2 separate regions of the Homo sapiens genome follow, and region 1 is linked to region 2. Evidence: fine-mapped expression QTL. A gene starts in region 2. The other region holds a variant in brackets. All regions are shown on one strand. Distances are between the middles of the regions. Region 1 holds the start of LOC105372657 (a long non-coding RNA gene). Region 2 holds the start of LINC01270 (long intergenic non-protein coding RNA 1270).

Region 1 (14,965 bases), 51 kb after region 2:
ATCCAAATAGAAAATGAGCAAAAGACACAAACAAATATTTCACTGAAAAGAACATGCAGATGGAAATAAACACATGAAAAAATGTTCAACATCATTAGCCATTAGGGAAATGCAAATTAAGGCCACAATCGGATATTGCTACACACCTATCAGAATGACCAAAATAAAAAACGATGGGAACTTTCGCATTCAATCACTGGTGAGGAATGGAGACACTAGAACACTCATACATTCCTGATGGGAATGTAAAACGGTACCGTATTCTGGAAAACAGTTTTTTAAAAACTGCCTTATGACTTGGCAGTTGCAATCCTGGACATAAAAATGAAAACTTATGTTTGTGCAAAAACTTATGCTCAAATCTTCATAGCAGCTCTCTTCATAATAGGCAAAAACTGGTAAACCACCCGGAAGCCTGTCTATGGTTTTTTTTAACTAAAAAAAGCTGTGTTATATCCATACTATGGACTGCTACTTGCAATACAAAGGAATAAAATATTGATAACACACAATTTGAATAAATCTTCAGAGAATTATGCTGAGTGAAAAAAACCAGTCCTCAAAGGTTACATAAACTATATGATTCCATTTATGTAACATTCTTGAAACCACACAATTATAGAAATGGAGAACAGATTAGTGGTTGCCATGGCTCGGGGGCAGGGTTGGGGGTGGGAGATGGGTTTGGTTATACAAGGGCAATGAGGGATCCTCGTGGTGATAGAAATGTCTGTATCTTGACTATATCACTGTCAATATCTTTATTGTGACTGTTAACATTGGGGGAAACTGGAAAGGGTATATGGACTCTCTCTGTTTATTTCTTACAACTGCATGTAAATCTATAATAATCTCAAAAGAATACATTTTAAAAAGAATATATTATACAATTTTCTATACCCAGACACTACTAAATATAATTATATCTTTGGTAACACAGACACACTGTTCTCAGATAACGGAAGTAGTGCGGTGATTATGTGTGTGACTTGACAATGGGATGGGCTGGGTTCAAATCTCAGCTACCAGTCCCTTCACCTCCTTGGGCCTCAGTTTCCACACCTGCAGGTGCTGAGCAATGAGAGGAACTGTCTCGTGGGGTTGCTGGGGGGACACGATGACGTGATTCATGAGACATGCAGAGCACAATGCTCACTTGCAGTGGCTGCCCAGTAAATGAAATTGCCACTTTTCCGGGCTGTAGAAAAGGCTACAGGTAGAGGCAGGCAGAGGATTGGACCCGAGAGCATCCTCTGAGAGCTCTAGATTGGGATCATGTCTCACCAGCCAGGGGGTTTGTTTTGACTTCTTTCTTGCAGGGAAGTGTCTGCTGAGTGGTCCATTCCACTCCCCTGAGTTTGGCCTGGTCGCTTCTTGTCTGCCCTCTGGACCCCGGTGGGTGCAAACTTTCATGGGTGTCTCTCCACCTGGAGCCTGTGGTTGGGACTGCTCAGGTGGGGACACAGCCTGGGGGGTGATCCTCTGTAAGGCAAAATGGAGCAGGAGTGGAACCCATGCCTACTGCATACCTATTGTGTGCCTTGTGACTTACGTGCTGCAGCTCACGGAATTCTCCCAACAACTTTGAGCAGTAGGTGCTATAATCACTCCTGCGTGATCCAGAGAAAACCGAGACTTGGTGAGGGGAATGGACTTGTCCAAGGTTGTGCAACTAGTAGGTGGCAGAGCTGAGATCTGAGCCCTGGTCTGTCTGATTTAAATCCAGAATCATTTTCACTGTTGATAATAACCTCACCACTTATTAAGTATCTACTAGAGTAATCAATATGCTAGCTCTTTCCATTGAGGTATGATCACCTTTCCATTTTAGAGAAGAGGAAATAGGGGTTAGGCAAGGTGCATTGCCAAGATGGACAACAGCTCTCAAAAAACAGCCAACCTTGCAGCCAACGGGCAGCTTTCTTGTGTGCCCCCAACCCCACCTGTAGCTCCAGCCCAGCTCAGCCAAGATCACTCAAGCTTTGGGACTTTTAAATGCTGAGTCAGCAAACAGCCCCTACCTTGAGATACTCTGCCTAGGCAGACTGTGGTTGTTTGCACTTCAGCTTCAGGCCTCCAGGGTCAGCTGAGATAGCAAGACCTTCCCCTGGGGGCTGGATGGGGTCATTGGGAGCCACTGAGAGACCCTTTCCCCACTTGGCCTGGCAGACAGAGTGGCAGTTGGAAGAGGCTCGAGGTGGCTGTGGTGGTAACAACTTCCTTTTGAGTAATAACATTTACTGAAAAGCAATTCTGCTTTTAGCACCAGAAGTTCACCATCCTTGCAAGCAGGCGCCTAAGAATACCTTCATTCAACCACAGTTCAGAGATTCACAGACTTCCTTTTGCACTCCCTCCAGGAGAGTTTCACATTTGGTGTTGAGGGAAAACCAAATACCACAATTATTGGAGGGGGTGGGAGGGGTGTTGAGAGGGAGGTGATGCGAAGGAGGCCAGGTGGCATCAACCACAGCCCCCAAGGCCTCACAGGCAGCCTCTGGGCAGCGGCTCAGCCTCTCGCCCTCAGTTACTGGAAAGACAGCGGACGAGCTCATAATGAAACCGACAGGCTGACAATTTATCTTCCTTTTACAAGAAAAAGAAAGTGATTGTCCTTCAAACAAGCATGACTTTGGAAGCCAGGGACTTACCCTGGCCACTCTGCAAATTAGAGACAGAGCCAGGCTGCTCCAGAGGCCCCGAGCCCCTGCCTGTCACCCCCAATTAGCGCTGGAGTTCTTTAGGCTCGTTTTTTCTATTGCCCAAAATCCAGTCTACTGGGGCATAATGGGGACTTATGGAAAGAAAAAAATCCAATCTGCACTTGGGAGGGGATAGCCTTAAATGTTAGGCACTCACCGCAGGCAGCTGGGGGTGGCTGAGGGCAAGGGAGAAGGCATGGGTGGGGAAGGAGGGGATGTGCCAGGCAGAGCCAGGAGGCTCCAAAAAGCAGCTCTAAAAAGCTCTCCCCCTCCCAGCAATCCAGCCTCCTGACTCACGCCAGACACAGAGGCAGCTGATGGGATGGGAAGAGGCTGGCTTTGGGAGCCACAGGGATGTGGGGGCAAACTCCAGCTCTGCCACTTGCTGGCTGTGTGACCTTGGGTGGGTAACTTCACCTCTCTGAGACTCAGTTTCCTCACCTTTAAGATGAGGATGAGTATAGGAGGTCAGGACATGACCTTCCTGTGCTCAAAACCCTCCCACGGCTCCCACCTCACTTGGCAGAAAGTCAAAGATCTCTGTGGCCTACCAGGCCCTACAAGATCTTTCCCATGCTTCCCTTATAACCTCATCTCTCTCTCTCTGTCTCTTTTTTTTTTTTTTTTTTTAAGACAGGGTCTCACTTTGTCACCCAGGCTGGAGTGCAGTGGTGCCAACACATCTCACTACAGCCTCAACCTCCTGGGCTCAAGTCATCCTCTCACCTCAGCCTCCCAGATAGGTAGGACTACAGACACATGCCTCCACGGCCAGCTAATTTTTGTATTTTTTGTAGTAGAGATGGGGTTTTGCCATGTTGCCCAGGCTGGTCTCGAACTCCTGAGCTCAAGTGATCTGCCCACCTTGGCCTTCCAAAGTGCTTGGGATTACAGGTGTGAGTCACCGCGCCTGGCCCATCTCCTCTTACTCACTCTCTCTGGTTCCCTCTACCCCTGCCACACTGGGCTCCTCTTTGTTCCTCCAACATGCTAAGCACACGCCTACCTCGGGGCTTTTGCACACACTGTTTCCGCTGCCTTCAGCATCCTTCCTCCAGATAGCCACAGGGCTTCTTCCCTCTCCTGATCTGGGTGTCTGCTTAAATGACCCCGGGGGTCCTGCTCTGACCCCCGGCCCTTCCAAATTGCTCCCCTGGCCTTACCTCTTCACCCTGCGTGAATGTTTTCCCATAACACTGACCACTACTTGACACAATAATTTAGGGGGTTCATAACTCCCCATTGGCCAGACTGTAAGCTCCCAGCAGGCAGAGGCCAGTTCTCCACTGTCCTCCATTAAATCTCAGAGCCTGGCACATAGGGGGCACTCATCCAGCATTGAATGAACAGATGCAGGGTTTTGTGGTGAGAAGGGAAGAAGGACGTGTGTGGCGGGTTCAGCACCAGCCCAGGGTGCGTGCTCACTGTCACTTCTTCTCTCCTCTGCCCAGCACCAGCCCCATGTCATGTGCTTGTTGAATTCCTACAATGGAAGGATGCATTTTACAGATGCAGGAATGAGACCACAGAGCCCAAGCGACTGTCTCAGCCCGCAGCGGGGCAAGGCTTTGAATTCTGGTCTGCGGGTCTCTTGGCCTCCAGGACAATGGTGACAGTGTCCAGTCTGACTTGGGGTCTGGGTGAGAGAAATGGCTGGTGGGGCCATCAGACTCTTGAGAAGAGGCCCTGGCTTTGAGGATCTCCAGCCGACATCTGGGCTTAGGACTGGGGTTCACGCCCCGTCCTCCTGTCCCACAGTCCCACATTCTGCCCCAAAGCAGAATGCAAGCCCCATCAAGGAGGCTCAGGGTTTCCAGAGAGGGGCTTCCTCAACTTTCTGTTGCTGGAAAGTTCTGTCCCAGAAAGGGCAGACGCTTGAGGAGCTCCTGGATCCGGCAGAAGGCTCTGAGACTAGGAGACCCCTGGTGTCCTCGCTCCCCGGCACCCCGCCAGTTCTCGAATACAAGGGACTTTCCAGAGAAGTCAGCCTCCTGGCTGCCTCCAAGCCTGCCCAGGCCTGCAGGCCCAGGTCTCCATGAAGCTCAGTCCTGCCTCGGTTTCCCTGTTTTTAATTTCTTGGAGAGGCCAAGGAGTTTGGAGGTGAACAGCCTCATACGAGCACTAATTTCCCCTAGGCCTGGGGCATAGGAATTTTGGAGCCATAAACAGGCTTCTCACAGCCCCCATGATGAGTCCTCCCCACACTCCATCCACCCTGGACTCTGGGCTGAGCTGGGCAAGGAGCTGGTCTGGGGTGGGCTGGGTGTTGCCTGTGGGTGCGGCTCAGAGCTGGGGGCGCTACCTCTGCCCTTCTGTCCCCCATCAGAGCTGCCCCAGCTGTATGAGAACCCCTCCCACAATGGCTACAACAGAGGGCACGCAAGTGAGACGCCAGGAAGAACTGCTTCAGCTTCGTTATCCTCAAAGGTGTTCGTACCCATCAAGCCTCCTAGAGCAGACCTCCATGACAGCTGCCCATGGGACAGGTCCACTCTGGAGATATGTTTAGTTTGGTCCTTAAAGTATTTTTTTTTAATGTGAATCAATTGCCAACATCTGACATGCCAGGAGATTTCACATAAAGTCCTTTTCTCTGGCTTCTCTTGAAAAATGGGAAGATGTGGCCATACTGGGCCCACATTCCTACTGGACACAGGAGGCCTGGGAGTGGGGTTGCGGGAGGCCCTTTCTTAGTGGCACATAGTAGGTACTTTCCTGTTCACCCAGTCCCTGCATGCCCCACTTTCCTCATATCATTTCCTTGCCAGGGTCTTGAAGTATGAGTAGGAGTGCGCCAGAAAAGGGCAGTGGAAAAGCGTTCCAGCAAAGGGGAACAGCGTGAGTCGGTGAGATGCATCTGTTCAAGATTCACTCGACAAATATGTATTGATACTTACTGTATACACAGGGACATACAGCAAGAAACCAAACAAATCAAAATCTCTGCCCTCTGGTTCTCAGCTAGAGGTGGTTTTGTTCCCCATGGGACACTTGGTTATGTCTGGAGATGTGTGTGGTTGTCACAGCTGGGTGGAGGGAGGGTGCTATCAGCATCTAGTGGGGAGAGGCCAAGGAGGCTGCTGAACCAATCCTACAAAGCCCAGGGCAGCCTTCAGGTGCAGAATGATCTGGCCCCAAATGTCAGTCAAGCCAAGGTCGAGGGACCCTGGTCCGGGGGCACAGACACCAAATAGGACAAGCCAATGAACTCAAACCGTGAAGCCAGCAGCTGATGAGCACTTTCGGATTAAATGAGCCGGAGCATGGTGAGAGGGATGCAGAGGGGTGTGGCTGCTCAAACAGGTGCCGTCTGCACAGGGGCAGGTCCTGAAAAGATTGTGGCACTGCTGGCAGGGTGGCCCTGGCATTGTAGGTGTTCACTGAGTGGCACTTTCTTTTTTCCACCCTGCCTAATCTTCATGACGTCCTTGCTGTGGAGCAGGGATCTGTGTTCCTGACCGGGCATCGCAAGCCGTTAAGAGGCTGACCCAGGGCTCCTGACCACTCAGTCAGTGTCCTTGTGCTGCCTGGAGGTAGTGATGGTCTCTGAATTGCCTCCTGTCATTCAGTCAGTCAACAAACATCTAACAGGAGCCCATTGGGGCATAGGGGGAGGGAGCAACTTAGGGTGAACTGCTCAGCTTACAACATGTGGTAGGTACGCAGGAAAGACTGGTGAAAGGAATGAAAAGAAAGAATAAGTGAATAAGCAAGCCTCAGGCCATTAAGACAATGATCATGGCCAGCATTGATTGAGTGCCTACTGTGTGGCAGGCTCATCCTAAACCCTCCATGTGAGAGTCTTACAGAAGGAACACCTCTGAAAGGGGGGCCAACGACCATCCCCACTTTCAAGGTGAGAAGACTGAGGGGAAGAGAGGTGATGTCAACTGCCCGAGGCCTAGCAAGAGAATGGCAAGGCTGTCGCCGGAGCCTGGGCCTACCAGATCCCAGGGTGCACCTGCTGCCTCAGTGTTGTGTATGCTGTGGCTCAAATCGTTATGCCACCGGCCCTGTGAGGGAGGTGCTAGCATTATCCCATGTTACAGATGAGGAAACCAAGTCTCAGAGACAGGAAGTGACTTGCCCAAGGTCACACGGCATGTGTGTTTGAATCTAGATTTCACGTTTTCAGCCACCAAACCCTGCCCCTCGTAAGCCCTGGCCGCTCTGTGAGGAGGATGCGTAAGTCCCAAGGGGTTGGGGAGGGAAAGTGGGCCAGGGAGCTAAGCCCTCCAGGGTCTGCAGGACCAGGCAGGAGGCTCTGAAGGAGGCAGGGTCCCTGGTGGGCAGATGGGAGCAGGTGGGCCTGGGGAGCCGCCAGCCTTCCGCCCCCACGTGCAGGCATGCCCGCCAGGAGGGCCTGTGGAGAGGCCGCCCCGCGGTGTGTGCCAGGCTGACAATGGCTCCTTGTGTCTGTGCCGACGGTGGGAGAGGGGAGGTATTGTTTGCCAGGACACCTTCCCGCCAAGGCTGGCTGCAGGCGGTCCTTGTCCTAGGACGCTTGGCACGGGGCTGTTCCGGGCGCCAGAGGGAAGTGTGTGTGTGCATGTGTGTGGCTGGGTGTTCTGGGCCACGTTGGTGCTGGCTGCGGCTCCCTGGGTGTGCCTGTGCACGTGTGTGTGGGGTGAGGGCATGTGTGTCTATCTGAGTGTGCCCATGCACGTCTTGCACACCCATGGCCAGTGTGTCTGAATAG[T/C]CTTGTGGCTTGGGGCTTCCATGTGTCTCCCTGGGCGTGGCTGTGGCTGTGACTTTACGTCTGGCACCGTGTGTCTCTCTGTACCTCTGGACCACGTGTGGCTCTGAGCACCTTTGGTTTGCGTGCCCATGTATGTCTCAGCCTGTCCCTCTGCTTGTGTCTCCATCTCCCTCGGGGTCTGTCTGTGGAGCATCTTGATCCCAAGGGGGCAAGAAAGCCTCTGTTTCAGAGTGCGGGCTGAGTTCCATTCGTGGCTGATAGGTGAGGGAGGGGGCTTCAGGCAGAGGGAATGGTGGGTGCCCAAGCTGGGGGGCAGGATGGAGTTGGCAGATCTGCAAGAGCAGCCAGGAGGCTGGGTGGCCGCAGTGAAGTGAGTGGAGGTGAGAGGACACCAGGGGCCACCTGCAGGCCAGAGTCCAAAGTGAGGGGCAGCCATCAGAGGATCTGGATGGGACCATGACATGGTCTGTTTCATGGCAACGCCTTTGGCTGCAGGTGAAAAATGGGTTGTAGGGCAAGCCTGAGAGGTGTTGGGAGTCGCTGTGGCCAGTGTTAGGAAGCAGTTCCACAGCGCCACCTCAAGGAACCCCCACTCCATGGCAGGGGTTGCAACTTCCCCATTTTGCAGAGGTGGAAACTGAGGCCCAGGGAGGAGAAATGCCTCCCAAGGCCTGCAGCCTGGGAGCTGGCCCAATGCTAAAGCCAACCCTCCACCTCCTCCATCTTGGCTGCCTGCTCCTCTGCAAGTCGCTCTGCATCTTGAGGCTCTGGTGACGCCTGTGCTAAAGTCAGAGAACCTGGAGTCCTCGTCAGGTCAGGAACCAGGACTCTGGAGCCAGATGACTTGGGTTCGAATCCTGCCTCTGTAGCTGTGTGACCTTGGGCAAATCACTTAGCCTCTCTGCACCCCAGTGACCTCATTGGCCAAATGGGAGTGCTTGTTCATCATTACCTCCAAAGTGCTGTGCCACTAGATCCCACCTGTGACAGCCGCATCTCCTATCCCTGCTTTATTTTTCTCCAAAACACTCATCACCTTCTAGCATACTACATCTTGTATTTACTTCCGATGACACTGGAGTGTCCGTTCCACGGCATTTTGGGTTTTTTGTTCATGAGTAGTGTCTAGAACAGGGTCCTGCACATAGTTGGTGCTCAGGACTATTTTGTTGCAAGAACCAGGTAATACATGTGACATATGGGAACACAGCCTGGCACGTAGTGGGTGGAATGGAGGTGTCTGCTGTTGTCATTAAGTTGGGAGTAGGCACTTGGAAGCAGGACAGCCCAGTCAATCCTGATTAGGAATGGGTGTCCCATCTCCTTTTCTGCACATCCTTCTTGCCTTCAGGACCTGCTCAGCCCACTCTGGGCCAGACATCTTTTATATTGGTCTCTGAAAATAGGGAGACTCTGGCAGGTGCTATGAGCTGCTGGTTTCAAGCCTTATGAGGGATCAGTGACCCGGTTTCCCCACCTGACCACAGCTGATCCAGAGGCTTCGATGGTCTCTGCTCTCTCAGGACTCTCCTCTGTATATTCCCCTATATATATATTCCCCCTGACCACCCCACTGCCCCAGATCTTCCCAGTCCCTCTGTCGGTAAATACAGTTGGCAGCTCTGGCAAAAATGTCCTGCCAATGGTACAACGAGTCGTTGGTGAATATTTAGGAAGCCCAGCGGGTTTGTCAAGGAAGCAGCTTCCTGAGCATAAATATTTCTAAGAAAGAATGAAAGGAGGGGCCTCGGCCTCAGAGATCAGTGGGTGGTGTGCTGACCTCCCAAGGTCATCATGTCCAGTCCTCTGCTGCATGGTCATTGCTTCTGGTGTCCCATTGGCACCTGGCATCCTGGTTTCCTGAGAAGGGTCAGGAGCTGCAGGGGGAATCCAGGCCCAGGCGGAGAACAACCTGCTCTGTCCTCTCACTTCCTTCCTGCTTTTCTTCCAGACTCCCATCCCTGGCTGGGACATGCTGCAGTTGTCAGCAGCTGCACAGGAGAAGCAGGTTGGGGGCTGACCAGGGTAGCCATGGCTTCCTTGAGGACCCACTGTGGTGTGGGGGCTTTGCTCAGCGTAACTGGATAAACTTGGTATCGGCCCTCCCCTCCTGCAGCTGCCAAGGTTCAGGCCTCTTCTCCCATTCCTCTCTCCACCCCACATTTATTGAGCACCTACTATGTGCCCAGCCCTCGGAGACAATGAAAAGACCTCTGCCCTACCTTTGCCCTGGTTCTGATGTCCAGTATCTGTCCTGGGACAGTTGTGACAGCTGCTCAATTGTCCCTTTCAGTCTCTCCCTGTCCCAGCCCTTCCCCTTCCACAACGGCTGAGTTCATCTTCAGAAAGTGCAACTCCAGATCTTGCTTCTGCTCTGCTCTAAAACCATCAATGGCTCCCCGCTGCGACCTGGAGAAAGTCCAAACGGCCCGGCTGGGTGAGCCTGGTCCTGCTCCATCTACCCCAACTGCCCTCTGCAGCTTCGTTCCCCACGTCGCCAGCCACGAGGATGACCCCTAGTTTTTCGAACACACCTGGCCCCTCCCACCTCCTTACCCTTGCTCAAGCCATTCCTGCCAGCCCAGTGCCCTTTCTCAGCCAACCTCTCGTGTCTGTAGCCTTTTGTTTGTTTCTTTCTTTCAGGACACATCACACAGTGCTTTGAATTGCACTTATTTATATCTTCTTTTCCTCCCAGAGGGCAGGAAGTTGCCAGATTCATTTCTGGGCTTGGCGCCAGGCTCAAAGTAGGTCCTTGTTAGATTCGCTGGCTGAGCTGGTGAGGATGCTGTATTTGCGCGGGTCTGGGGCCACCCAGCACATGTGTCCCTTCTTCTGGAGACCACGTTGAGTTTCCCCTGTGGTGCCTCCACCCCCTTGGTCTTGTGAATTAGGAGAGTTGACCCCATCCATCCTCAGGGCTGCAGGCCTGGCCAGTCAGGCCCCTGGCCACATGGATTGGTTCAGGGGTAAGCACACGATCCAATCAGGGCCAAGAAATTAAACCGGCGACTTTGGAATGGGAAAGACGTTGCCGCCTTGAGGTGGCTGAGCTCGTTGTAGGATGTCAGCCTGGAGCAGCTGAGGCACTGTGCCACCCTGAGAAACAGAGACCGCCTGAGAATGCCAGTGACATGGGGCAAAGCAGAGCCAAGAGGCGCAGACAGCCCCCAGACGAAAATCGTCAGCGGTGCTCCTGGATCCAGCTGTATCTGAAGCAGACATGGCTCTCTCATTCTCCCTTTTTAAAACCCACCTTGGGTTGGGTTTCCATTGCCTGCAGCTACAAGAAATCCTGACAAATAGCTGAGCCTTCTGAATATACATCTCATCACCTTACTGTCCGCACTGCCATGACCCCATGCGAAATTCTCTCATGAGGAACCCCTTTGAATATCCAAAGCTGGGGGAGGCGTCTCTTCCTCCACAGAGCTAGTTTCTTTTCTCACTCATGGGCAATATGAGCAATGATCGCTGGTTCTGGTTGCCTCAAGCTCCTTTTGGAATAAGGAAAAGAGCAAGTGGAATAACCTAAAGGACTAAAATGGGCTCGAGTTCCCAGGGGCTAAGGCTGGGCCCTCAGCCCCACTACTGTTCAGCATGGACAGGCACACAGCAGATGCTTCTCGGCCATTCACTGCTTGACAGTGCAAGGCAAGCTTTCTCAACCTGGGCCCTCGGGCATTCTGGACTGGCTGCTTCTCTGTGAAATACGCCAGGTTTGGTTAGGAGCGAGTTGCCCAGTCTGTGTTCTACTGACATTTAGTGCCAAATAACTCCTGGTTGGGGGCTGTCCCATGCATTGCAGGACTTGTTTAGCAGTGTCCCTGGCCTCACTACCCGCTAGATGCCAGTAGCACCTCCTTCCCTGAGTTGTGACAGCCACACATATCTCCAGACGTTGCCAAACATTCCTTGCAGGGCAAAATCACCCCCTGGTTGAGAATATCTGCTGTAAGCAAAGTGTGTCTCACAGGACCTGGCACATAGCAAGTGCTCAATAAATATCAGCAAAGATGGTTCGGTGACGATGATGCTAAAGATGATCACTGAGGAAATTTGGGGCCTCAGTGAGATCCAGATTTGGCTGACTTAAGTGGGAAGGAAATTTATTAGAGGAACATGAGTGAGCTTACAGAATTTATGAGAAAGCGGAAGAGTCAGTTCAAAACAACCCAGAAACGGAGGCAGTTCAGTAGGTCCCGACAGCAAGAAGCAGATATGCTGATAGCGGCAATGAGCTATTCCCGTTTCAGCCATCCCCCCACTTCCTCCTTCCTAACAGAACCTATTTTGCTCATTTTGCACAAGAAATCCCTGCCCCCACCCCTCCCATGGGCTCCAGGAAGATGGGCCTCAGCCAAGCCTCAGGGGACTGATTCCCGTTGCTCTAAGTCAGCCACAGTGTCCCCCACCCCAACAAGGCCAGTGATTGATTTAGGCTGGACATGGAATGTGATTTTAGCCAATGAGATGTGTTGAGAAATTTGTTAGAGGCTTCTGGGAAAGGTTTCCTTGCTCTTCGAGATAGAGGTTTATTTCACTTTGTATAATCCAGGTTTTCTTCTTTTTGAAGGCTGAATAATGTTCTGTGGTTTTTTTTTTTTTTTTTTTTTTTTTTTTTTTGAGACAGTTTCGCTCTTGTTGCCCAGGCTGGAGTGCAATGGCGCGATCTTGGCTCACTGCAACCTCTACCTCCCGGGTTCAAGCAGGCCCCATATGTGTGGCCTGTGCAGAAAGAGACTGGCAGCCTGGAGGGGTGAGACCTGGGTGGAAATGAAGAATTCAACCAAAGCAAGTAAAGAAACTGCCAGAAGCTTGAGCCCCCGAGAAGCTCCCGATGTCTGGGGGTAATCCCAGGATCTCCATCTTTTTTTTTTTTTGAGACGGAGTTTCGCTCTTGTTGCCCAGGCTAGAGTGCAATGGCACGATCTCGGCTCACTGCAACCTCTGCCTCCCGGGTTCAAGCAATTCTCATGTCTCAGCCTCCTGAGTAGCTGGGACTACAGGCGTCTGCCACCACACCCAGCTAATTTTTGTATTTTTAGTGGAGACGAGGTTTCACCGTGTTGGACAGGCTGGTCTCAAACTCCTGACCTCAAATGATCCACCGGCCTCAGCCTCCCAAAGTGCTGGGATTACAGGCGTGAGCCACCACACCCGGCCGGATCTCCATCTTTTAAAAAACATGACTTTCTTCTCTGGGCAGGTGGGAGGCTGAGGGACACCTCAGCGTTAAGCCAAAAACAGCCGAGGCAGCATTCATGCCTCCTCCTTCCAAAGGCCCCCATGTCTCCAGGGGTTGGGAGCCTCCAGCTCTAGGCTGCGGGGATCCCCTCTGCCATTCAGGCCCAGCCCCTCTACACTGGGCCCTGAGCATGTACCTGGCTCCCCCAGTGTACCCGAGGGCCTTGCTGTCACCGGATGGATTGAGCAACTCAACCGAGTGTGCATTTTCCAGCTCAGGCTAACCACCATTCAGTCACTTCCCCTCACGTTCATAGACCAGTTGGTTCCTTGTCATTTCTCAGGGGACACCATGACCCTTCTTGTGAACTCTCCATGATGCAGGCGAGAATCTGAGTCACCCAGAGCTAGCAACCTGATTCACCTTTGTCCCCCAAACCCCTGGCCTGGCTCTCAGATGAAAACAAATAATAATAATAATAATGAATATAGCCACTAATTCCTACAGTGTCCTGAGAGCTTTACAGGTACCTGCACTGACTTTCAGGTAGGTACATGCTTGTCCCCATTTCCTAGATGAGGAGACTGAGTCCCAGAGAAGGTGAGTAACTTGCTTATAAGGGAAGAAGGAGTCGTGATCTGAAGCTAAGCAATAGGGTGGATACATTCAAGCATGTTTGGTTAGACATTTAGCAAAACACCTTTGCTGAAAAAAAAGTTTTGAAAAAAAGTTATGAAAAAAAAAGATTGGAAACTCTATTTTTAAATGTATCACCAGCTTGGGAGGCCAAGGTGGGCGGATCACCTGAGGTCAGGAATTCGAGACCAGCCTGGCCAACATGGTGAAACCCCGTCTCTACTAAAAATACAAAAAAAAAAAAAAAAAATTAGCCAGGCGTGGTGGCAGACACCTGTAATCCCAGTTACTCCAGAGGCTGAAGCAGGAGAATCACTTGTACCCAGGAGATGGAGGTTGCGGTGAGCTGAGATCACACCATTGCACTCCAGCCTGGGCAAGAAGAGTGAAACTCCGTCTCAAAAAAATAAAAATAAAAATAAATAAATGTATCACCAGCTCCATCCATTCATCAGACACATGTTTCCATAGTAGATACCTTGTGCCTGGAAGGTTCTTCTTACGAGGGACATGGGAGTGAACAAACAGGTAAGGTCCCCTCCCCCCTGGAACTTGTAGTCCAGTGAACACAATCAATCCATTTAGGACTTGAACATTTGAAATTGAGACTTCCCTGTACCTATAATTATCAGAACTGTATGAGATCCTGAGGTGGAAAGATGGTGACTTCTGTGGGCTTTTTTGCTCAAACACAATTCTTTAAGAAAGAGACCTGCATCTCGGGCTGCCCACCGCAGTGTGAGGATGTGAGAAAGACCCAGGGACCTCACAGACCATGTGATGTCACAGAAGGCACAGGACTGCCAGGTGCAGTGGGTCACACTGTAATCCCAGCACTTTGGGAGGCAAACATGGGGGTGTCGCTTGAGGTCAGGAGTTCAAGACCAGCCTGAGCAACACAGCAAGACTCTGTCTCTGCAAAAAACCAAAAACCAAAACCACAGGGCGGGGAGGTCAGACCAGCTGCCTGGAATCCCAGCCCAGACCCTCACCAGCATGTGACCCAGGACGGGCCACGTGCTGTCTCCTCAGGAAGCCTCAATTTTCTCATCTGGAGACAGGGACAATGAATCCCTTCCAGGATCACTGTGAAAAGACAGGTTGAGCATCTCTAATTCGCAAATCTGAAATCCGAAATGCTCCCAAATCTGAAACTTTCTGAGTGCGGACCTGATGCCGTAAGTGAAAGCCCGCGGTTTTCTGTTGTCGCTGTTGTTTCACGGCTGAGCCCCCTATCTGCTGATATCGCTGTTCTGCTTGGTCGCCCTGAACTCCTTATTTTCCCACTGTATTAATGCTATGTCATACTTTTTACCATGGAGTACTTATGTGTGAGTAAGTGTGAGACAATGATTGCTTATTGATAGCATATAAATTCAGAGTCAGGAATAAGGGTGATGCCAAACAACCACAGATTGTCCACGTGGGTAACTGAGATAGGTGTGGGACGCCTTTCTTTCTGTTGGTGCGATGCACACAAAATTTGTTTCATGCACAAAATTATTAAAAATTATGTACAATTGCATTCAGGCTGTGTGTATAAGGTTTGTATGAAACATAAGTAAAGGTCATGTTCAGATTTGGGTCCCATCCCTAAGATATCTCATTGTGTATATGCAAATATTCCAAAATTTGGAAAATATAAAAATCCAAAAGACTTCTGGTCCTAAGCATTTTGGATAAGGGATCCCTTAGACGGTACCCTGTGTCAATGTGGGATATACTATGTAGGAAAATGTA
Region 2 (14,965 bases):
TCTCCCACGGGGTCCTGGGACTCCTGGCTCCGGAACCCCCAAGGCCCAGCCCCTCCAGGGCCCGCATGGTTCCCTCCTTGCTGGGATAATTTACAGTCCCAGGGCCATAGCTGCTGTTGCTTTATTTTTTTCCCTTCCCCGACTTCTCCCTTCCTCACCCTGGCCTCACTTCTCCAGAACCAGCTTGTTTTTGTTTTCTGTTTTTACGGCTCCATAAATGAGTCACGGGTCTGATTTGATTTAATTTCGTTGTAATTGTTATCTTTTCAAGCTTGTTTTTTTCCACTCGGTTACTCACGAGACCACAAAAACCTAAACAGGACGGGGCCTTCCCCAGCCCGGCCTCCTGGTCCCCCGGGACTCCGGGCCAGGGTCAGCAGCTCCTGGAGACTGAGGTGGGGTCTGTGGAGCTTCTGTGGGGAGGGACTTGGTGTCCCCAGCAGGACTGGGTATCCCGAGTCCCGGGCTGCAGCTCTGTTGCTGGACAGCCTTGAGAGAATTGTTCGAGCTTTCTGATTTCCCCAGCATCCTCCTTAGCAGGCTTTAGAACAGGGAACCAAAACCCAGGCACCTCTGGGCCAGAAGGTGAAAGGATGAGTAAGGTGGCCTGGTGCTGGCTCCGGTGAACTGGAGAGAACAGGCTCTCCTCAGGGGACGGTGGCCTCTGAGCCAGCAGGCGGCCCGGATCTTCCCATTTAGTAAGAGAAGCCAGAAGTCTGAGATTGTATGTGAAAAGTCCTGATTTTTAAATGTTGGCCAACGAGTCAAATTAAAAACAAATAAACAAAACCTGACTCTGTGGATATCTGTGGCCCCGTGGGCCACCTCTGGTCTAGAAGGTTCCAATTCTAGCTGCGGCAGCCGTGTTCTCAGTCCTTCCACCCTTCTGCCTGAGCAGTCCCCTCTGCCTGAAACTCTCTCCTTCTTCCTCCTCATCTCAGTCACTCTCATTCTCTGAACCTCGGTGTGTCTCCTGTTCGCAGCTCAGAAGAGATGACATCTGCTTCATCCATGTTCGCCTTCCCAAGGCGCCTAGTTGTTCCCAATTCACTTTTGTTTCTATGCTTTCTCTTCCATGGAGGGTCTGTCTTGTTTGAGACCGCCTTCGTAGTGGGGGAAATTAGCCCCTTAGTTGTTAAAAGTCATAACACATATCCTGCCTGTCTTATCATTCATTTCTAAAATGGGGCACGATACTTCTTTGGTCATTTAAAAACCGAAGACGCGAGGCCGACGCCTCCAGGGATGTGCGCTGGGCGGTAGGAGCCAGGTGTGGGGCCAAGGAGTGGGGGCGGAGGAGGAAGCCAGGTCCCCAGCCAGGGGGCTGAGGGCTGCTCCTCCAAAGCTTGGGTATGGACATGTGACCAGGGCCCACCAATCACATGCAGCCATGCCAGATTTATGAATCAGAAGTTGGAAATGTTGGGGGCTGATTGCTTAGGACTCCGTTCTGGGGTGGGTGGGGCTGCAGCCCGGCTATTTTTCCAGAAGCTGCAGTGGGCCAGTTCTGGGGGCAGTGACCAGGGCTCAGCGGTGGCCACAGTGCAGATGGAATCATTTTGCAGAAATGACCCTCCCCGTGATTATGTCAGGAATGTCAAGTACAATGAAAAGAACACTGCATTGTGCAGTCATGCAATTTGGTTTAAATATGTTTAAATGTATCCACGCTTGCTTTAGTGTGTTCATTCTAAGAATCTGTGTGCACCACAGCAATTATATGATAATTGTGTTAGGTCAAAGAGAAAATCAATTTATTTTCACAATTTTTATCCCCCACGTGGCAAGACAGTGACCTAGTCAAATCTCTCTAAGGTCATTCTTTTTTTTTTTTTTAAGACAGAGTCTTGCTCTGTTGCCCAGGCTGGAGTGCAGTGGCACAATCTCGGCTCACTGCAAGCTCCGCCTCACGGGTTCACGCCATTCTCCTGCCTCAGCCTCCCAAGTAGCTGGCACTACAGGCGCATGCCGCCACGCCGGGCTAATTTTTTTTTTGTATTTTTAGTAGAGACGGGGTTTCACTGTGTTAGCCAGGATGGTCTCGATCTCCTGACCTCGTGATCTGGCTGCCTCAGCCTCCCAAAGTGCTGGGATTACAGGCATGAGCCACTGCGTCCGGCCATTCTCTAAGGTCATTCTTCATTATGATGCTTTGGCTCTGGTTCTTGGTGAATAACTCACTTTACATGGCTTTTTCCTGAGCCAAATTGTCCATCTTTATTTTCTGAGCTGTGGCCGGAGGTCTCCAGAAGCCCCCTCCCAGCGCCTCCCTGGGTGTGTCTCATGCTGCAAAGGGCATGGCGATCTGCAGGCTGGTGCTGCACTCCTGGAGTCCTGATGGCTGTGAAGCCCTGGGACCCATGCAAGCTGAGCTCTGTCACCCACCACCACCTGTGGCCTCAGCCTTCCCAAACTCCTGGCTCAGCCCCTGCCTCACCTTCTCTTTCACCTACTTGTCATCCCCTCTTTAAGCGAGGCCTTGGGTGAGACCCCTGGGCAATGCTCTGGGCCTCAAATGGAAGCTCCATGGATGCTTCAGATGCTTCAGATCATGGAGTCCTGGAACTACTGAATTTTTTCCTCCAGGACGAAGGAATCACCAGCCCTCAGCAGACTAAACCTTTGCAACTCTAAAATTCAAATGCACAGGAGACCTGGTAGACCAAGTCATGTGCTTGTTTGGGAAGCATTTATTGAGCATCTAGTATGTGCTAAAGTACTAGGGAGACAGCAGGAAACAAAATGGACTAACCCTTTGACTTTATGGCTCTTAGGTTTTGGGAGGGGGAGACAGCAAAGAAATGACAAATAAGTGAAAGACATAGCATGTCCCATAGTGAGACCACTGGGAAAAGGGGCTGAGTCTGCAGGAATTGAAGGGGCTGGCCACACAGATGTCTGGGACAGAGCATTCCAGATCGTAGGAAAAGCAGATGCAAAGGCCCTGAGGTTGGAACAAGCTTGCATTGTGGGGGAAAGTGAAGGAGAGCCAGAGATCATCCAGGCCCTGAGGGCCTCAGGAGGAGGAGGAGTTTGAATTTTATTGCAAGTGAGGCGGGAGCATTGGAGGGCTCTGGGCACAGGAGGGAGATGGCCTGACTCAGGTTCTAACACCAGGTTCCTCAGCTTCGGCACCATTAACATTTGGGGCTGGATGCTGCTCTGTAGTGGGGTCGTCTTGTGCAGTGTAGGATGTTAAGCAGCGTCCCCGGCCTCTGCCCACTGGAGAGGTTGCCAGTCGCACCTCCTCCCCAAACCCAGCTGTGACAACTAAAATTATTTCCAGACATTGCGGAATGTGTCCTGGGTGCAGGATCTCTCTGGCTGCAAATGGGGCAAGTGGACTGTGGGGGGCCAGGATGTTGTGATGAGAGCAGAGAACCCAGCAGAGATGACTCCCCTAGTCTAGGACAAAAGGAGGGCGATGGCAGCAGAGGTGGGAGAAGGGACTGGATTCTGTTTGGAAGGCAAAGCCAGCAGGATTTGTTGGATTGGGCGAGGGAGATGTTGGAGTGGATAGGTGGATGCAGGCGCTATCGTTTGCTGAGATGGGGAACTGGTTTGAGGGGCCAACTTCATAGGTCTAGGGCAGGGCCCAGAACCTGGCGTGGTCACAACCTGGCCTCAGGGGGTGCTGAGTTTTTCACACTGTGCTTCAAAGAATTTAAGTGTCCAGAGGATGTACACTGGGGAAGGGTCTCTTCTACCGGTGCAGATGGGAACAAGTGGGCAGGCGGCCTTTCCTTGCCAGCAGACCAGGAGACTCTAAGATGCTTTTTCAAGGGAGTCAGAGGATCAGCCTCATTGGAGGACTGGTTCCAAAAGGCAGCCTCACAGCCAGGCGCGATAGCTCATGCCTGTAATCCCAGCACTCTGGGAGGCTGAGATGGGAGGATTGTGTGAGCCTAAGAGTTAGAGACTAGCCTGGGCAACATGGCGAAACCCTGTCTCTAAAAGAAAATAAATAAATAATAATAAAAATTAGAATAAAATAAAAGAAGGGATTCTGAGACTGAAAAAAGCCAAACTCAGGTGCTGCCAGGGCTGGGCAAGCAGCACTCATGGTGAAGTGGTGGGAGAGGGGTGCAGGCCTGTCTAAAGGGGTGGACGCTGCTCAGTTTCTGCCAGTGTCGCCCCGTGGGAAGCCGGGACTGACAGTTTTTCATGAGAAGCTGTAAATCTAGATCGGGGTGTCCAACCTTTTGGCTTCCCTGGGCCACACATAAAATACACTAACACTAACGATAGCTGATGAGCTAAAAAGAAAAAATCGCAAACAAAATCTCATGTTTTAAGAAACATTATGAATTTGTGTGGGGCCGTATTCATAGCCATCCTGGGCCACATGTGGCCTGTTGTTCGCGGGTTGGACAAGCTTGATCTAGATTGCTATATGAAACCTGTTGATATTTAAATGTTAGGGCAAATATCAGGCCAGGTTTGGCCTGAAGGCCGTGAGTTTGAGGCCTCTGTGATACTGCAGCCCTTCTATTTTGCAGGTAAGGAGCTGGCGGGGAGAGTTAGCACAGCTGCCTCCGAGCCTGGCAGATGGTCCTGGATCGGGGCTGGACGGGGTGACTTGGAGAGGTGGTGCTTGGACTCAACTGTGAAGAAGGGTCAGATTCCCACAAAAAAGAGGAGAGGGCATTGCAGGGGGCGGAGGAGTGTGAGCGAGCATGTGTGGCGGGAATATGGAAGACTGTTTTCCAGGTGGAGGGAGGTAAGAAGACGGGGAACTGGAAAAAGAGTTGAAGGAGACGGGTTGATGAGGATGATGGGGAATACACGGACACGGAAGGTCAGACTGGACCCAAAAGAGGGTTGGAAAAATCACCCAAACACTTCAATAATATTAGTAACTTCACTTCTGAAATTGTGTGGCAACAAGCAGCGCGTTTATTTTACCACTTACTTCGGGTTCTTGGCAACCCTGCGTACACCAGGGAACGCTTGCCCAACAAGAAACATTCTCACTCGCAGATTGTTTACAAACGCCTCGAAAATTTTTGTAATATTTTTGTAAATATTAAATTAGAAATTTAATATAGAATTATAAAGTGTGAGTGGGTTAATTAAAGATTTTAAAATTTCAACTTAGCAGGTTTTTCTTTTTCTTTTTTTTGAGACAGGGTCGCGCCTAGCAGGCTGGAGTGCAGTGGTACAATCTCAGCTCACTGCAACCTCCACATCCCGGGTTCAAGTGATTCTCCCACATCGGCCTCCTGAGTAGCTGGGACTACAGGCATGCACCACCACACCTGGCTAAGTTTTGTATTTTTTGATAGAGACAGGGTTTCACCATGTTGGCCAGGCTGGTCTCCAACTCCTGACTGCAAGTGATCCACCTGCCTCGGCCTCCCAAAGTGCTGGGATTACAGTAGTGAGCCACCACACCTGGCCAGCAGATTTCTTTAAGTATTTTAGAGGCAATATTTTTTCCCCAAAATCTCCCTTGTGCAAATTTTCTACCTCACAGCTGCCAAAATTTGAGGTGGTGGACAAAAATAGTTGATATATAATGATAGAAAGACGTAAGTGAGGTATATATATAGAGAGAGTCTAGAAAGAGTTCGCTTTCAAAGGGGAGGATCAGGGCAGTCTCCCTGGAGGAGGAGGTTTTGAATACGTGCGTTGAAGGGTGGGTGAAATCCAGACCAGGCAGGTGGGTTAGGGAAAGTGAGGGCATGCCGGGTGAAGGGCCCTGTGTGTGCACAAGGGTGAGGTGGGAATGATGAGTGTGAGAGTTTGTACCAAGGGGGCTGGGGCTGGGGTGCCAAGAACCAAAGAGCCATGATAAGGCCTGTCTGGGGCTCAGCCAAACTGGGGAGTAGTACACGAGAAGAGGAATGGGGAGCCCTAGAGGGTTTTAAGTAGGGGAGGAACGTGGAGTCCATAGCAAGGCAGAGTGGCTGGTGGGGAGGTGGGGAGGATGCCATGGCAACCATTCACGCCAAGCCTCAGCCCCGACCCTCAAGGAGGCAGGCAAGGCTGAGCTTCCCTTTCCAGATTGTTTGTGGGTGCAAAAGGGCAGCAAAGAATGTGGGTGCCTTGTCCTTCTGCCCATGGTCTAGTGTCCTTCCCCTCACCCCAGTCCCAGTGGAGCCATCATAGGTGAAATATAAGAACAAGTCACCTGCGTTCAGTGGCTGCAGAATACCTGGCCTCGCACAGAAGGCTGCGGGGATTTCTGCTCATTCATTCTTCCCACCTGCCGCATGAGGGAGGTGCTATGTCCATTTTACAGAGGACACTGAGTCCCAGAGAGGCTAAGCGGCATGCCCGAGGTTACACAGCCAAGAAGGGGCACAGCAAGATTCAACCCAAAAGTCTGCACTCCAGCCACTGCCCTATCATGACACTCACGAGCTCCCACCAAGTCTGGCTCCAGTGTTTCCAGTACCATAATCATCCCCATTTACCAGATGGGTAAACTGAGGCTCTGAGAGGTGGAGTCACTTGCCTGAGGCCATACAGCAGGAAGGGTAAAAGTAAAGATTTGAATCCCTGGGTCTAGTCGACTCTGGAGCCTGCTGTTCTCCCACCATACACCTCAGCTGCTCGCCCTCCTGGGCATCTGTTTCCTCATCTGATGAACAGGGGTGACGGCGATGCCTCCCTGGCAAGGTCCGCAGAGGATCCCGGGTGGTGTATGTCAATCACCCAGCTCAGTGCCTGGCACTCAGTGGATGCTTTAAACGTGATGCCTGTGTTTATTCGTATAAAGGTGGCTGAATATTAAATGGGTGGATTTATGGAAGGCACTTATGGTAATGCCCTGTACATAATAGATGCTCAAGAAACACTAGAAGCAGTTACTATGATTATAGGATCGACCACAGGGGACAGCCCAGTAACCCCTCAAAGTTGCTTCCTTCCCAAGTTGCCTTCCATTTATTTCTCCCTTCATCCAACACACTGGCCTTAGGGTCCAGGTTAGGATTTGGGGGCTTGGGGGGCTTAGGTTACAATTTGAGGTGATTTGTCCCCCCCTGCCCATCAGTCAGAGTGATGCTGAGAGCACTGGATGATAAGACCAGAATTCTAGGTCCGCGCCCCGGACCTGCTGTGTGATCTCTGGCAACTGCCTTGCCCTCTCTGGGCCTTGGTTTCTCCTTTCATCTGCAGAGCCTGGGCCAGGCTGCCCTGGGAGGTGCCAGCCCCGAATGGGGCCGGGGGCAGTTCCTGTGTCCCCTTGGCCACCAGCCTCCATCTCCTGCCTCTTGAGCTGCAGGCCCGCCCGGCTCAGCTGTGACGACGAACCAGCCAATCTGTTTACTGAACTGGCTGACCCCTTCCGGGAACTCGGCCCAAGCTTCCCAGAACTCGGGTATTAATGACCCGGAGCCACATGACGGAGCATGACACAGCACTTTTGGGCACAAGGCAGGGCCCAGAGGGGTGCGTGGGGGCCGCAGCCCAGCCCCCAAGCCCCGCCAGCGGGTGAGTCACCTGGGCCCCCTGCAGCTTCCTGATCCCGGCCACTCAGCTGTCCTCCCCACCCCCAGGATATCCCCAGTTGTCAGGGCTGCCCTGGGACCCCTCGACCTTTGCACTAGGGACTTAGCAGCCGTCTTGGGTGATCAGGGCTGCCTTCTGGGATTACAGATGGGGACAGTGAGGCCTGCAGGACTGGAGTGAATGAACAGTGAGCTCTGAGTAAACGTCCACTGTGCGGGAGGCACTGTGCAAATACGTCACGTTAGTCTCGCAGCGATGCAACACAGTGGCGTAGTTTAATCCCCATATGATAGATGGGGAAACTGAGGCTCAGAGCGGGAATGAATTCTCCCAAGGGCATGCAACAAGAGCACTCTGTTTGACTGGAAATAATTTCCTTTCGTCTCCTCAGCAGCCGACAAGGGAGGTGCCATGTGGACTGTTTCACAGCTGGAGAAACTGAGGCACAGAGGGGCTGAGTCACCTGCCTAACGCACTGAGCAGTCTGGCTCCAGGACCTGTGCTCTGAACCAGCACCTGGCACATAGCTGGCACCGACATGGTCTCCGTGCACTGCCATGGATGAGAGCAATGCTGGCTGCGGTGTCGGGCGGAGCTGGGTTCCAATGCTGACTTCACCTTTCTCAGGCTGCACAGCCTGGAGCACGTGGCTGCACCCTACCGTGCGTCAGTTTCCTCACCTGTGAAGGGTGATCGTGGTGGTCCTGATCTTGCAGAACTGCAGTGAGGGCTGTGAGTGTGGGGTGTCTCAACTGCACCTGGACACGCAGAAGGCACTCTGTGAACACTGACTTTCATTGGCCCAGGCCTCTGAATCCATGACAGTTCAATCTCTGAACCCCACAGCTTCCTCCTTCACCCTTTGCCGCCCCAGGGCAAGGTGAGGGCGGTGGTTTTTATGGGCCTGGGAACCAGACAGGCTCGGGCTCAGAGGGGGCGCCTGCTGCTGGCGGGAGTGGGGCCTCCTGGTTCCCACTCCCTGATTTTGGGCTGGGGGCCGGTGGTGGGCAGGGGTGGGGCAGCACTTTGATGTTCTTCCCTTCATTCCACCACCACTGCTTGAGCACCTACTGTATGCCAGGCTCCAGGGGACCCAGCAGTGAACAAGGTCTCTGCCCTCACTATGGTGGAGGAGAGGATGGAGGAGATAAACATCGGTGAGCAAATGCTTGAAGAGGCGAGAGGATTTCACCAGAGAGAAGGGCCGTGATGGGAATCAGCAGGGGTGTTTGGGAGCTGAGTGGGTCAGAGAGGGCTTTTCTGAGGCGGTGATGTGGAGCAGATGCCTGAAGGAGAAGAAGGACCAGACCTGGGGAAGAGATTTCCAGCAGAGGGAAACTCACCACAGCACGTGCAAAGGCCCTGAGGGTGGGAATGGGTTTGGGAAGTTCCAGGAAAGGCAAGGAGGCTGAAGGGGTGTGAGGAGGGGACAGCAGCAGGACATGGTGCTGGAGGGCCAGCAGGGGTTGGACCATGCAGGGCTTGGTGGGCTGAGTGAGCAGCCGCGGCTGGGACTTGGGCAGGAGCCTATGTGAGAGATGGCAAGACTGCCTGAGATCGCATTCAGAACTTCTACCCATCTCACAGATGAGCTCAGTGAGGCCCGAGCCAGCTTCCCCTAGAAGGTCAGTGGCTGGACAGGCATGAGAATCGAGGGAGTTCAACTCCCCCGGAGAAGCCAGAAGCCAGAACACAGGCCGTGGAGGAGAGGGTCCCACATTCATCCCTGCAGCCCCGAGAGCTGTGGGCTGTGGGGCTGCCTGGATGGCTTCCTGGCGGAGGAGGTGACCTCCAAGCTGTGGCTGGGGCAGAAGGGCTGGGAGAGCGTTCCCAGTAGGGGAAGCAGCACACAGACAGGCCCAGAGGTGGCGGTGAGGTGCAGGCGTTGTCTGGGAAATTCATCACTGCTTGGGAGTCAGGAAAGTGACCGGGTGAGGAAGTGTTATTGTCAGGGTCTCCCTTTCAGAAGGCCTTGGGGCCAAGGGGAGGAGCTGGAATTGCCTTCCACCGCGTGCAGACCCCAGGCTGGATCCCAGGACTGCCCAGGGACAGGCACACGTCTGCCCTCATGTGGCCCACAGTCCAGGGGCAGGGACTGTCTGGAGAGATTAGGGCCATGGGGGGCAGGAGGGCGGAGGGGCAGACCTCCCATCCTAGTTCCAATCTCAGTGCTGTGACACACTCCCTGTGTGACTTGGGGCAAGTCACTTTACCTCTCTGAGCCTCTGTGTCCTCATCCATAAATACCACCTGGAAAGATATTCTCAGAACTCAGTGAGATCATTCGCTCATTCGTCCACTCATTTATTCCTTGGATTTTTTTTAGCGCTTCCTATATGCCAGGTCCTGGGCTGGGTGCTGGGGACACAGCAGTGACAAAAATCCCTGCCCTTGTAGGGCTGATGGAAGAGGTAGTGTAAAGCAGTGAGTGGTTAAGAACACAGACATTGGAGCCAGGGGCCTTGGGTTAACTCCTGGCCCACTGCTTATTTGCTGTGTGGTTTTGGGTGAGACACTTTACCTCTTTGCATCCTACCTGTAAGATGCCACGTCATAGGATTGCTGAAAGGACAAATGAGTTAATATATGTAATGTGTTTAGCACACAGCCTGGTACATAGTAGGTGCTCAATTGTGCTTGAATGAGCTGAGATGTGCAATAAGCAAACAGAAGAGGGGTGAGTGGATGAGACAGTGTCTGACAGTGGGAAGTAAAAGTGACCAGCTCTTAGCAACAAGTAGGCATACAGTAGGTGCTCAATAAGTGTTTCTCCTCCTTTGTCTCCTTCCGAGTCCATCTTGGACCTTAGCCCATAGGGGACTTAAGGGCCTGAGGTTTGGAATCTGCGTGGAAGGCGGGAAGTCGTCTTTGCTGATCCAGAAACCCAGAGCTGAGCTTTGGGGTTGGCAAGAGCAGAGACGCCCCCAGCACCCCTGCCCCTCACGCTCCCTGCACCCTGTCCCCAGCATCATGTGCAGCCTGGGTGGCTGCGGCGAGCTGGGGCCTGCCCAACGGGTCCCCAGTAATGACACTCATTACACAGGTGTCTGGCAGCGGGGGGAAGCGAAGGCCCCAGGGGCCGCATTCACATGGCACCCAGCCAGCCCACCCCAGGCCCTTCCTCGTCCTTTATAAGTCTGGTGCCCAGGGCAGGCGGGCAGGCTGGGGAGAGGAGCTGGCGAAGGGCCAGCTGGCGCCCAGTGAAAGGAGGGAAAGTTGAGAGGTCTGGGTGCCAAGCACTGGTGTGGAGGCCAGGGGAGGTGGGCACGGGGGGCGCGTGTGTGTGCACACGTGTGTGTCAGGGTGTTTTGGAGGGGGCGGGATGCAGTGAATCTGTGTCCAGGTCTATGCATCCCCCTGGCCTGTGTGTGGAGATGAGAGGGTCTGTGTAGATGAAGCATTGATGGTCCCCCAGGTGGGTGCAAAATCTCCCATGCCCGTTTCATTTGTTCTTTAACCTACACTGTGAGGTGGGTACCAGGCTGGGTCCAGCCTGGACCTGGTGATGTCAGAGCCAGTCCCAGGGCAGCCCTAGACTCTGCCGTCTAAGAGCTCCAAATCCAGGGACAGACAGACGCCAGGCAGAGGATCAGGACATCCCAGTGAAGACTTTGATGGAGAAAAACAAGGCAGGGGGCTGACAGGGATCAATAGGATGGGGTCAGAGGCCTCACTGGAAGGTGAGCTTGGCTGGAGGCCTGGAGGACGAGCCGCCATGGCAAGATCTGCAGGAAGAGAGTTCTGGGCAGGAGGAATGGCAAGTGCAAAGGCCTCGATGCAGGGCTCAGCTTGGCCTGTGTGAAGGGGCGAGTGAGGAGGGGACTGGGGGCCGGGGCAGGTCCAGAGCTCATGGCCAAAGTCAGGAGTGTGCATCTTCTGAGCGCAGTGGGAAGGTTGGCACATGGTAGGTACACAGATGGGGGCTCCACTGGGGTGAATGGGTTTGATGAGAGCCGGGACCGGGCCCTCTGGGTGTGGGAACGATTGGCTTTCAGAGCTACAGACAGGAACGTGGGCTGCTCAATTGTATTTGAACCTATTCTCCTGGGTTCAAACCCCTCCTGGATCCTGGAACCTGTTATTAAGCCGGCTGCACCCCAGGGCACCGGCCTTTATATCCAGACAGGGCCCTGGCCCCCAAGACGGGGGTGGACGGGTGATACTGGTGAACCCCATGCCTGCCCCACCCCCTGCCAGGCCCCTCGGCAGGGCCAAGTCTGCTTCTGAGAGCAATGAGCATCTCTCCTTTTACAGATGGGGAAACTGAAGCCCAGAGAAGGAATGGGTATGTCCTGGGTTCTTGTGGCAGAGTGCTGGGGGCAGCACCCAGAAAGCCTCCGTCACAGCTCATATCTCTTCCTACTTCATCCCCGCCCACAGCGGGCTCCTCCTAATAGGACTCTGGCAGGGTAGCAGCTGGTGTCCAGGCAGAGCTAGAGGGAAGAGCTGGGTCCAATTTGAGAAGCCTCTGTTAATTGGGTCCTATAGGAAGAACTGTTAACACTGTGAGTTTCCCATCACCAGAGGTGTGCAAATAGACCTGGATAACAGCCCTTCACCTGCTTAGAGATTACAGAGAGGTTCAGGCGGATGGGAGACCACTTGCCTTCTAGCTGTGTGATTCCACAGGACCTCGGAACAATCCTTAGCTCAAGCCTCAGTTTTCCCGACTGTAAAATTGTTTTTTGTAATAATCAGAGTGACCTCATTAAAAGGACAACTTTGTTGATAAAATTCTCCTGCATTTATCCAGGCCTCGCTTGGTTCCCCAGTGCTAAGAGACAGCTCTAGCCCTCACCATGGCCCGCACATCCTGTAGCCCTGGTCCCTGGGGCCTTCCCTCCCACCCCCTGATTCTCCCCTTCCTCTCTCTGCTGCAACCACAGACTTCCTCCCTGTTGTTCCTCTCCTACCTCAGGGCGTTTGCAGATGCTGTGAGCATTGGATGTCGGGCGGAGGGCTTTCCCTAATTTCAATCTCCCACCAGTCCTATCAGGTAAATAGGAGATCCATTTTACAGATGAGGAAACTGAGTCTCAGAGAGCTGAAGTTAAAGACACACAGCTTTTTGTGAATCCACTGAGTCAGGATTTGAGCTCAGGCCATCTGGAATCTAACACCACTCTCTTTTCTTCATTCCTTATGTGACTTGTTTTCATTTTCAAAACTTTGCTCAACAGTTGCCTTCTCCAGGAAGCCTTCCCTGACTACCCTCTCCATCCACCCTCCCATGACCTTCCTGAGTTTCACCTTTGCTGCACTGCTCACACTGTCTCTCAATTATCTCCCTTTTTTTCTTCTCAACAGCTTTACTGGGGTGTAACAAACACACGATAAACTGCGCATATTCCAGTGTTCATGTGGATGAGTTTGGACATATGCACACACTTCCGAAACCACCAGCACAATCAAGACAGCAGACATATCCATCGCCCCCAAGGGTGTCCTTGTGTCTTTTTGTCATTCATCCCTCCCGGCCGCCCCATCCACACTCCCATCGCCTGCCGACTGTGGCTGATCTGCTTTCTGCGGCTGTGGATTAGTTTGCGTTCTCTACAATTTTCTGTAAGTGGAATCATGTGGTGTATTCTTTACTGGGCTTCTTTTCCTCAACATTATGATTTTGAGAGTTACCCACGTTCCTGTGACCATTCTCTTTTTTTATGTATCTGCCCTGTCCCCCTCAGACTGTGAGTTCCATGGGGCGAGGACTTTGTCATATTTACCTCTGCGTCCCCAGCACTCAGCACAGGGCTGGGCACACAGGAAGTGCCTAATAAGTGTTGACTGACGGGAAGGAGGATGAGGACATGCCCAAATGGGGGAACAGCGGGCACATTTGCATGGCAGTGAGGAGCCCAAAGCCGGATTAAGAAAAAACAGCCCCTGGAATCATCTGGAGGCCTCGTGGCCCCATCAGATAAGCATATCTGCTCATCCCCATGGCTGTCTCTGAGGAGCAAAGATCTGGATTGCACAAGGGCTGGGCCTGGGCTGAGGAGGCGCTAGTGGTCCCTTTATCTTGCGTGGGCATTCGGCGCTGTGTTCTAGAACTGCACAGCCCACGCACCCCGGCAGGCAGAGGCCTGGGCTCCGGCAGCGGGTGGGCAGGTGGGAGGCAGGAAGAAGTGGCCACCCAGCCCTCCCCAAACCAGTTGGACTCCTTTGCAGAGATTACTGCAGGCGCTTTGGGAGCTGGCTAAGGGAGAGTGGGAGGCAGGAGGAAAAAGCAGGAGGAGGGGAGGAATCATTTAATGAGCAAATATTATAGGGAATTTCCAGTTCATGCCCCATCAGGCTGGGCAGGAACACAGTGGGATTACTCAGGCGGTTTCCAGGTACCAGCCTCAACCTCGAAGGTTCAGTGTGGCTCAGATGCCTCTAGGTCTTCATCGCTGGCTAGAAACCCAACTAGCCAGGGTGAGAAAGTGGCGGTGAGTTACATCCTGAGACAAAGCCTGCAACCAAAGTCGAGTCTAAGCATGCGCTTCCTGCATCAATCTTTGCTGAGATGACCTTATTGCCCATTTCCCAGACAGAAAAACTGAGGCTGGGAGTTGTGGCATTGGCTAAGGCCACACAGGGGTCACTGCGCAGTAGGGACAGCTTAAAAGCCAAGGCCATTTTGGAGTGACTCCTTCAACAAGGGCCACATTCTTTTGATAAATACTTATTGGGCACCTACTGTGTGCCACACACTATGCTCAGCTCTGCAGGTTAAAAAAAAAAATGGAGGCCGGTCACGGTGGCTGACGCCGGTAATCCCAGCACTTTGGGAGGCCGAGGAGGGCAGATCACGAGGTCAGGAGATCGAGACCATCCTGGCCAACATGGTGAAACCCCGTCTCTACTAAAATACAAAAAATTAACTGGGCATAGTGGCACGCACCTGTAGTTCCAGATACTTGGGAGGCTGAGGCAGGAGAATCTCTTGACCCCGGGAGGCGGAGGTTGCAGTGAGCCGAGATCGCACCACTGCACTCCAGCCTGCTGACAGAGCAAGACTCCGTCTGAAGAAAAAAAACGTGGAGTCTTTGGGCATATATTGTGCATTGCATCTTATCTACAGATGAACACAATTTTTGAGGTCAGAGATGTTTTGTGGAACTTTGTTTTCTTCTTTGTGGAAACAAGAAGTTTGGACCAGACTAGCATTTCCCAAATCTATTTTATCATTTATCCATTTTGAGGACACAGATCTGAGGGACACAGAGTCTCTGGGGGTACTAATAGGAGTGACAAGGGGGAAAGTGTTCCATTAGCCATTGGGTTTGGGAATTCCTGGGTGAACATTTGCCACAGGTGTTCTCAGTCTTGGATGCTCCAAAGAGCTCAATGAGCATCTAGGTGGTTAGGTCCTGTGAGTTACCCTCTGGGATATCTAAGGGAGTTTGTTCACTGTTTTTCTGACTTCATGAGTCCTGTTTGGATGCTGCTTCCTCCAAGGAGCCTTCTCTGAATCCCTAGAAGGACCTGAGTCCCCTTCTGTGAAGGCACCTGCCTGGAG

What was found. PIP is the estimated chance that this variant, and not a neighbour inherited with it, causes the effect.
Region 1: its variant is fine-mapped to the expression of LINC01270 in whole blood (TOPMed, PIP 0.98).

What each region holds. Positions count from the first base shown.
Region 1 is chr20:50,336,608-50,351,572 of GRCh38, forward strand. LOC105372657 (a long non-coding RNA gene) reads left to right here and starts at 14,091. Exons shown (of 3, transcript XR_936837.3): 1 at 14,091-14,403. RefSeq lists enhancers at 2,507-2,706, 13,848-13,897. The variant T/C (reference allele first, on the strand shown) is at 7,402.
Region 2 is chr20:50,285,391-50,300,355 of GRCh38, forward strand. LINC01270 (long intergenic non-protein coding RNA 1270) reads left to right here and starts at 7,330. Exons shown (of 5, transcript NR_034124.1): 1 at 7,330-7,440; 2 at 12,766-13,023. RefSeq lists a silencer at 477-526 and enhancers at 6,883-7,619, 8,733-9,233.